Regions from separate parts of the Homo sapiens genome. Here region 1 is linked to region 2. Evidence: fine-mapped expression QTL. Tissue or cell type: whole blood. Region 2 holds a variant in brackets; the other region holds the start of a gene. All regions are shown on one strand. Distances are from middle to middle.

Region 1 (5,000 bases), 140 kb after region 2:
CAGAGTTTTGGGAGGCCAAGGCAGGAGGATCACTGGTAGCCAGAAGTTCAAGACCAGCCTGGGCAAATAAAATAGACCCAGTCTCTACGCAAAATTTAAAACTCAGCCAGTCGTGGTGGTGCACGCCTGCAGTCCCAGCTACTTGGGAGGCTGAGGCCAGAGGATCGCTTAAGCAGAAGAGTTCAAGGCTGCAGTGATCTTGCCACTACACTTCAGCCTGGGTGACAAAGGGAGACTCTGTCTGTCTTTCTCTCTCTCACACACACACACACACACACACACACACACACACACACGAAACGTAAAAAAGAAAAATCTATAGTAATCAACTATTCTCATCTAAATGTTGCATATGGTTAACGTAGAAAAATAAATGACAAGTCAATCAGTAACACTGTGCATAGAAACCACCGTTAAGCACTTCATTCACCTGTTACAGAGATGCCAAATTAGCTCTTCAGTTTAGCTTATTTTAGAGTGCTAGTTATATTTGAACTTGATACCTATCCTCCAAAAAAACCAAAATATTTCCGAACATTAACTCACAGTCTTTCATGTCATCTCTGAACAGGAAAGGGGACATTTGCTGCCTTTTGCTTCAGAAAAATCAACCACCATACTGAATCATGTAATGGAAATACTTATATCTTGTTCTGAGGTTGCTGCTCAGATCTTGAGTGAAATATAATCACATGGTAAGGGGACCTGGGCCCTAAACACTTCATCCTGTCTACAGCTAAAGAATAGTACAGTATATGAGAATCCATCAGGATCATCACTTCTTACATGTGTTCGTATTGTCAGCACAGAATACGTAGCAAGTGTTCTACAGACGTCGAAAGAACTAGCAAACCCACTGTTGTTTGTGGCGCTCTCACTTCCTGTACTATTTTATTACTCAAGATAAGCCTAAAAGAACAGACAAAACTATCACGAAAACGATTTCTTAACAGAACTATTTTAAAACAAGAGAATCCTCAATTAAAATCATGCCATTTTCTTTCTCTGAAATCTTTAAATTACAGATGTGCTCATCTTTGTTGCCTGGATATGAGTTCTTTCAGCTGGGCAGCGGGAGACTCAAAGTAGTGACTTTTAAGGGATCCTACCAGAGGTGGGGGAGCCAATATAAATTACGTATCCTAATCTGAGACACTCTTCTGTCCTAATACCTGAAGCTTATAGCTTGTCAGGTGGCTTTTCCATGGAAAAACGAGGACATAAGAGAGAGGGCGGACCTTAAGAGTTCTACGGAGGAGCCGGTAACGGCAGCAGGCTTGTCAATCAACTGCAAGGTTGCAGCCCAAAAGAAAAAGAACTCACTTGATCGCTCATCATCGACTCCTCAGAGGCCCTCTAGGACTACCGAGAATCTCTTGCCCTTTGGCTCTTGCCCCCGACATCTCTCCTGGCCCCCCGCCCTGCCCCAGGAGGTCTGGTCCTCTCACCCGCTGCCAAATTCTCACACAGCCTCAAAGGGATCCTCAGGGCGTAAAGCAGCCCCAGCCCCGCCACGAACCACAACGAGGCCCCAGTCCCCGCCAGCCCGGCCCGCAGTCGCTCCCTCCAGCCTAGCGTCGGGTTTAGGCCAGGGACAGATGCAGGAGACGCTCCAACAGCTGCGGCTTCACCCACGCCGCCACGGTCCGCCATCTTGCCGCTATCGCAGGCGCCAGGAGCTGGGAGGGGAGAAGGACAGGAAACCGGGAGTCGGGAATCCTGGGATAGTGGCGGACCTGAAGTTGGCCTCTGTGAAGGCTGAGTCCTGGGGAACCGGGACCGAGAAGATTTCGAAGGTGGAGGAGCGTGTCTCAAGATTGGGGCTACCTGTTCTTTCGTGGGGCAGGGAAGGGGCGGACAGCAGCGCCTATTCTGGAGGAACTGGACTGAGATGTGACCCCGAAGTGTTACCGCTTCCAAACGAAATGAGGGTCACCTTTCACACCGCCCCCCCCCCGGGGTTGGAAAAGCCACCGATCGTTCCAGCTGCCGAGCAGCTCTTAAAGCTTTGGATTCGGCTGTCGTGGAGATAACGGGCACCAGAAAAACTTGTAGGAGTAGCAACAGCTATTTGGTCGGATGGAGGCCAGAAGCCAAGAATAATCGAAACACGCTGCCAGCGCCCATTAGATGGATGGGAAATGAGTGTAACTCATTGGGAAAGATATTAGACTTCAAATCACCTAAGGCAAACCCTACTTCCTGGGGCGCGGGCGCGGGCGCTGGCGTTAGGAGACGTCACTCCCGCGCATAACTGACATGGGGCCCTCTTGGTCGGCGTTTCCGGGCGGGTCCTTCCGACGGCCGCCGCGGTGATTCCATCACTCGGCTTTCTTCCCGGCCTGCCTCGCGCCCGTAGCCGGGCTGGGCCAGAACAGCCCAAGATGGCCGACTTCGATGATCGTGTGTCGGATGAGGAGAAGGTAAGGGGTCCGCCTCTCTCTCTTACCTCCTCCCCCGACAGGGAACTGGGGCCCGGCCCGGCTGCGTTGGGAGCCTAGCAGTGTCCCCAGGAAAAAGAAGCTTCTTGGTCCATGCTGACATACGCTCTCCGCAGTCGGGACGCTTCCCTCTTAGGGGGCTTTCCTCTGCCTCACGGTGGCCCCAGTTCCTCGTTCCTCGACTCTCCTTTTCTCTCAGGCCTGAGGCACAGCCCAGGGGCCTCCCTGCAAGGGAACAGACGTTTCCTTTATTGGATCGTGACTGTGGACTTTTTTCTGTAATTTTGCGAGAGGGTGGTGGTTATGTTGCGACATATCAAAAAGCAGTTATTTTACCGCCTTTAGCAGTTGGGGCTCACCCCATCCCCCCATTTGTAGATATAATTGGGGTTAGTTTAGGGCGAGTCACTTCCTGGTCAGGATGGCCTCTTAACTTCCCTTTTGCTCCTCCTTCCTCAGGAAGTGATTTTGCTGTCACGACTCTTCGACAAGGAGAGGTCCCAAATGTTGTCCATCTCCCTACACATGCACTACTTTTCTCCTGTACTGTCGCCTGTCTGATTCGCTATAATAAATCTGTGAGCCTCAGGGCATTTGCTTCAGAATTTGAACACCAGTCTTTCCCTATAGACACATCCCTTTTAACGATAATTTTTGAAAATTTTGTTTCTTGTTAACAAATCTAGAATAGCTGATGGATTTTCTTAACCTCCAGAAAGGTTTTCTGTAACACATAATAAACCTTATGTTAACACGTTCAAGACTGAACAAAGCATCCTGCCTTCTTTGATGCTCCACTGTGGAGTCTTTGATCAGTTGAATTTGTCAGTGTGCATTTTGTATGCTCATTTCTTGAAAAGGGTCTTAAATACAAGAGCACATTCTAAGGTGGAATAACTTTTCTTCTGACAGTTGCACAGTTTCATAACAGTTTGTCAGGCTTTTCAGTAAGTACATGGTTTTAGGGCACGTAGAACTTAGAATGACCTCACAAGGCAACTTATTGGACAAGAATTATGACATTTGTCTCCCACTGTGGCTATTAGAAAATGTGTCCCCTTGAGTGCTCTGTAAATCTACCTGGGTGTTTTTTTCAATAAGAAGTTGGGATGGGAAGGGGACTGTTATGATCCATAAGTCCTCTGTACGGAATAACTTGATATATGTAGATATGGCATGCCATTTTGAAATGTTTAACAAGCCATTGACAACAGCGTTAGATTTTCTCTTATTTGGAAACTGATCTTCATACATGTTTAAGATTTAGGACAAAAACATTTATGTATAAGCCTATGCTGGAAATCGATCTATAATAAATTGTTCTAAGGCAAATAGTTACTATTCAAATAAAATTAAGCAAAAATCCTGTTACAATACAACTAAACAATTTTTTTTTTTTTTTGAGACGGAGTCTCGCTCGGCTCACTGCAACTTCCGCCTCCCTGGTTCAAATTATTCTCCTGCCTCAGCTTCCCGAGTAGCTGGGATTACAGGCACCCGCCACCAAGTCCAGCTAATTTTTGTATTTCTTGTAGAGAGTGGGTTTCGTCTTGTTGCCCAGGCCGGTCTCAAACTCTTGGGCTCAAACGATCCATCCGTCTTCGCCACTTAAAGTGCTGGGATTACAGGCGTAAGCCACCGCGGCCGGCCAAAATTTCACAAATAATTTAAATAATAAACTTTTAAGTTTATTGTGCCTACCTGATACACATTGACCAGTGTTGTTGGATTTTTGTCTTTGATACCAGGTTAGAATGCCTTTAATTAAACTTGGGAAAATATATATTTTAAAATGCCAATTAAGATGCCTTTAGATACTGGCAGTGTTTTAATTAATAACATTAATGTCTTGGGTTATGGTTTTTTTTTTTTTTTTTTGAGATGGAGTCTCGCTCTGTCACCCGGGGTGGTGTGCAGTGGTGCGATCTCCGCTCGCTGCAACCTCTGCCTCTCTGGTTCAAGCGATTCTCCTGCCTCAGCCTCTCGAGTAGCTAGGATTACAGGCGCCCGCCACCAAGCCTGGCTAATTTTTTGTATTTTTAGTAGAGACGGGGTTTCACTATGTTGGCCAGGCTGGTCTCGAACTCCTGACCTCATGATCTGCCCGCCTTGGCCTCCCAAAGTGCTGGGATTACAGGCGTGAGCCACCGAGCCCAGCCAGTATTGTTTTTTTTAATAGCAGATCTGTGACCAGTTTCCTCTTCTAGCATACTTTTTTTGTTGCCAAGTATATTTTAATATTGTTTTTTATCTTTGTTACATTTTCTAAAGGCAGTGAACCTTTAGAAAATTTGGTGATAATGGACTCTTAGTTTCCTTGTAAATATTTATGTAAAAGCTAGTAATATCATCTATTCTCATAACTGCTGAAGTTTTTTTAATCACTTTATAAAGAGGAAGTTGGGTTTTGTTACCTGAAATGGTCATGATGAGCTGTCTAAATAAAACAGGAAGTTGAAAGTGTAATAACTTTTAGAAATAAATCTTTTAGTTGTAGCTTTGAGTTCACAGTTTCTGAGAATGAACTTGAGCTCTTTAGTTACATGCTTAGCAAGACCA
Region 2 (5,000 bases):
AATAATCACATAAAAAAATTTTGAGACAGAGCCTTGCTCTGTCACCCAGGCTGCAGTGCAGTGATGTTATCATAGCTCACTGTAGTCTTAAACTTCTGGACTCAAGCAATCGTCCTGCCTCAGCCTACTGATAATCTGGGACTACAGGCACATGCCACCAGCCCCACTAATTTTATCTTTTTGTAAAGACAGGGTCTTGCTATGTTGCCCAGGCTAGTCTCAAACTCCTGGCCTCAAGCAATCCTCCTGCCTCAGCCTCCGAAAGCACTGGAATTACAGGCATGAGCCACCATGCCCAGCCCTAGTCACATTTCTAGACACAAACAGCAAAGTAGTCAGAAAGAAAATTAAGGAAACAATCCCATTCCCATTAGCAACAAAAAGAATAAAATATTGAGGAATAAACTTAGCCAAAAAGACTTGTACACTAAAATTATAAAACATTGAAGGAAATTAAATAACATTATAGATAAATGAAAAAGATATCGCATGTCCATAGATTGAAAAAATATTGGTAAAATGTTCATACTACCCAAAGTGATCTACAGATTTAACGCCATCCCTATCAAAATCCCAATGGTATTCTTTACAGAAATAGACAATAGAATCCTAAAATTCACATGGGATGACAAAAGACCTAGAATGTCCAAAGCAATCTTGAGCAAGAACAAAGCTGGATTAATCACACTTCCCAATTTTGAAATGTATTATAGCCAGATACAGGGTAGTCCCAGCTACCTGGGAGTGGAGTCTGAGGCAGGAGGATGCTTCAGCCTAGGAGTTTGAGGCTGCAGTGTGCTATGATTGCACCTGTGAATAGCCACTGCACTCTAGCCTGGGCAACATAGATACACACACACACACACACACACACACACACACACACACACATATACACACACACACACATTATAGTAATGAAAACAGTATGGTACTTGCATAAAAACAATATATAGAGCAAAGGGACAGAATAGAGCTCCCAGAAACAAATCCATGCATCTATAGTCAACTGATCTTCAACAAGGATGCCAATAACACACAATTGGAAAAGGATCATCTCCTTGATAGTGTTGGAAAAACTGGATATACAAATGCAGAAGGATGAAATTGGATCCATGTCTCACACTATATACAAAAATCAACTCAAAAAGGATTACAGATCTAAGCTTAAAAGCTAAAACCATAAAACTCCTAGAAGAAAACATAGGGGAACATTTTCTTGATATTGGCCTGGGAAATGATTTTTTTTTTGATGTGACACAAAAAGCACAAGCAACAGAAGCAAAAATAGACAAATGAGACTGCATCAAACTAAAAAGCTTCTGCACAGCAAAGGAAACAACAGAGAAAAAAGGCAGTCTAAGGAATGGGAGAAAATATTTTCAAACTATGTATCTGATAAGAGGTTAACATTTAAAATATATAAGGAACTCATACAACTGAATAACAAAAAAAAAAAAAGAAAGAGAGAATAAATTTAAAAAATAAATAAATAACCCTACTTTAAAATGAGCAAAGGACCTGAATAGACATTTCCCAAAAGAAGGCATACAGATGGCCAATAAGTATATGAAATCATCGGAGAAATGCAAATCAAATGAAATGTCACCTCACACCTGTTAGAATTAGTATTATCAAAAAGACAAAAGCCAGGTATGGTGGCTTGCGCTTATAATTTCAGCTATTCAGGAGACTGAGGTGGGAGGATCACTTGAGCCCTGGAGTTCAAGACGAACCTGAGCAACATAGTGAGACTTTGTCTCCAAAAATTATATATATATAATTTTATATAATAATTTTAACAATTTTATATAATAATTTATATAATAAATTATATATATCATTTTTATATATAATTTTGTCTCCAAAAATTTTATATATATATACACATATATATATACACATATATATACACATATATATACACATATATATATACACATATATATATATATATATACACACACATATATATAGAGAGAGAGAGAGAGAAGAGGGTCTCACTTGTCACCCAGGCTGGAGTTGGTGGTGCAGTCTCAGCTCACTGCAACCTCTACTTCCCAGGCTCAAATGATCCTCCTGCCTCAGCCTCCTGAGTGGCTAATTTTTTTTTTGTTTTTGTTTTTGTAGAGACAAGGTTTCACTACATTGCCTAGACTGGTCTCAAACTCCTGGACTCAAGTGATTCATCTACCTGGGCCTCCCAAAGTGCTGGGATTACAGGTGTGAGCCACTGTGCCTGGCCCCCAAAATTTTTTAAATTTAAATTTAAATTTTTTAAATCACCAAACTCCATGCCTGGCATGTGCCTGTAGTCCTAGCTACTCAGAAGGCTGAGGTGGGAGGATTGCTTGAGACCAGGAGTTCAGGCTGCAACTCCAGCCTGGGTGACAGAGCAAGACTCCCTCTTGAAAAAAAAAAAAAGGTTTATTTCTTTATATTAGCAATGGAAGTAGAAATTAATAAATAATACTATTTATAATAGCATCAAAAATACTAAATGTAAAGATATCTGACAGGAGATGTGCAAGACTTATACACAAAAACTACAAGTCATTGCTAAGACAAATTGAAGTTCTAAATAAATGGAGAGATATACTGTGTTTATAAATCAGAAGACAATATGGCTATGAATTCAGTGCTCTCCAAATAATTCATATATAGATTTAATGCAATCCCAGTGAAAATTCCAACAGGCTTTTTTGTAGAAATTGACAAGTTAACTCTAAAATTTGTATGGAAATGCAAAGGACCTAACATAACCAAAACAACTTTGAATAATAAAAACAAATTAGAAAATGTCACTATCTAACTTCAAAGCTTTTTATAAAGTTATAGTCGTCAGGCCTGGGGGCATGATGGCTCATGCCTGTAATCCCAGCACTTTGGGAGGCCAATGCTGGCAGATCACCTGAGGTCAG[G/A]AGTTTGAGACCAGCCTGCCCAACATGTCAAAACCCCGTGTCTACTAAAAATACAAAAATTAACCAGGCATGGTGACAGGTGCCTGTAATCCCAGGTACACAGGAGGCTGAGGCACGAGGATTGCTTGAACCCAGGAGGCAGAGGTTGCAGTGAGCCAAGATTGTGCCACTGCACTCCAGCCTGGGCGACAAAGTGAGACTCTGTCTCAAAAAAAAAAAAAAAAGGTTATGGTCATGAAGACTACGTTTTATTGGAATAGAAATAAAGAACTATATCACCATATCAATCAAACAGAATGAAGAGTCCAGAAACAGTCTCTCAAATATGTGCTTAGTTTATTTTTTGACAAAGGTGCAAATGCAATTCAATGGAGAAAGCGTAATCTTTTCAATAAATGGTACTGAAACAACTGGATATCTATATGCAAAAACTAAGCTTTGATCCATACATCACACCATATACAAAAATTAACTGAAGATATATTTTCGACCTAAATGTAAAACCTAAAAAAACTGTAAAACTTCTAGAAGAAAATGTAACAGAAAATCTTTGTAACCTTGGGTTAGGTAAAGATTTCTCTTAATATACCAAAAGCAGCCAGGCCCAGTGGCATGTGCCTCTAATCCCAGCTACTTTTTCTGAATTCATTGACATGATCATATGGGATTTTTTGACTTGTTAATATGGTGAAATACATTGATTGATTTTCAAATATTAAACCATTTATGCATTCCTTCCATAAACCCAATTGGTCATTTATGTATTATCTTTTTATATATTGTTGGGTTTGATTTGATAAAACACCAGCTACTGGAAGGCTGGGAGGATTGCTTGAGCCCAGGAGTTCAAGACCAGCCTGGGCAAGATAATGAGTTTTTAACACACACACACACACACACACACACCAGGCTGGGTGCTGTGGCTCATGCCTGTAATCCTAGCACTTTGGGAGGCCAAGGCAGGTGGATCCCTTGAGCTCAGCAGTTTGAGGCCAGCCTGGGCAACATAGCGAGACCCCATCTCTACAAAAAAATTTTTAATTAGTTGGGCATGGTGTTAAGTGCCTGTAGTCCCAGTTATTCAGGAGTCTGATGTGGGAGGTTGGCTTGAGCTTCAGAGGCAATGGTTGCAATGAGCCAAGGTCACACCACTGCACTCCATCCTGGGCAACAGAGCCAGACCCTGTCTCAAAAACAAAACAAAACAAAAGAACATACCAAAAGCACTACCCATAAAGAACCAATTGATAAATTGGACTTTATCAAAATTTAAAACTTCTGCTGTTCAAAAACATTATTAAAAGAATGAAAAGACAAGCCATTAACTAGGAGAATATACTTTCAAATCACACATTTAATAAAAGACTTATATCCAGAACATATGAAGAACTTTCTAAAGTTAATAAGAAAAAAAAAACCCAATAAAAATAGGGGAAATATTTTACTAGAAACTTCAAAAAAGACATACAGTAGGCAAATGAAAAGATCATTAGTCATTAGGGAAATGCAAATTAAAACCACAATGAGATAGCAATACATACCTACTAGAAAGCCTAAAATTAAAAGAACTTTTTATATTATGTGTTGACGAGAATGTAGAGCAACTAGAACTGCAAATGGGAGTATAAATGATACAACAACTTTGGAACATATTTCGATAGTTTCTTTAGAAAACATACATTAACCTGCCACATGATTCAGTTATCCCATGCCTAGGTATTTACTCAAAAGAAATGAGGGTATATTCTATGCAAAGGTTGTAAAATAATGTTCATAACAGTTTTACATGTCAAAGCCAAAAACTTGTAATTACCCAAATAGCCATCAACAAGTGAATAGATAAGTAAACTGTGATATATCCATACAATGGAATACTATTCAACAATAAAAAGAATGCAGCTACATGAATGAATCTCAATTATGCTAGTGAAAGAAGACATTTAAAATCAATACACACTATATGATTCTGTTTATTTAAAATTCTATAAATGCAAGATAAGATACAGTAAATAAAAGATTCGTGGTTGCCTGGGGATTGGGGGAGGGAGCAAAGAGAATAGAAATGTGATTACAAAGGTG

The links. PIP is the estimated chance that this variant, and not a neighbour inherited with it, causes the effect.
Region 1: it holds the start of CAPZA1, and the variant in region 2 is fine-mapped to the expression of CAPZA1 in whole blood (TOPMed, PIP above 0.99).

What each region holds. Positions count from the first base shown.
Region 1 is chr1:112,617,461-112,622,460 of GRCh38, forward strand. CAPZA1 (capping actin protein of muscle Z-line subunit alpha 1) reads left to right here and starts at 2,372. Exons shown (of 10, transcript NM_006135.3): 1 at 2,372-2,423. The coding sequence starts at 2,385. It overlaps ST7L (suppression of tumorigenicity 7 like), which reads right to left and starts at 1,681. Exons shown (of 15, transcript NM_017744.5): 1 at 1,449-1,681. The coding sequence starts at 1,653. RefSeq lists enhancers at 1,645-1,744, 1,853-3,052, 2,205-2,654.
Region 2 is chr1:112,482,332-112,487,331 of GRCh38, forward strand. It overlaps a transcript of WNT2B not described here. Among named protein-coding and RNA genes, the nearest start is that of MIR4256, 23 kb to the left of the region's middle. The variant G/A (reference allele first, on the strand shown) is at 2,922.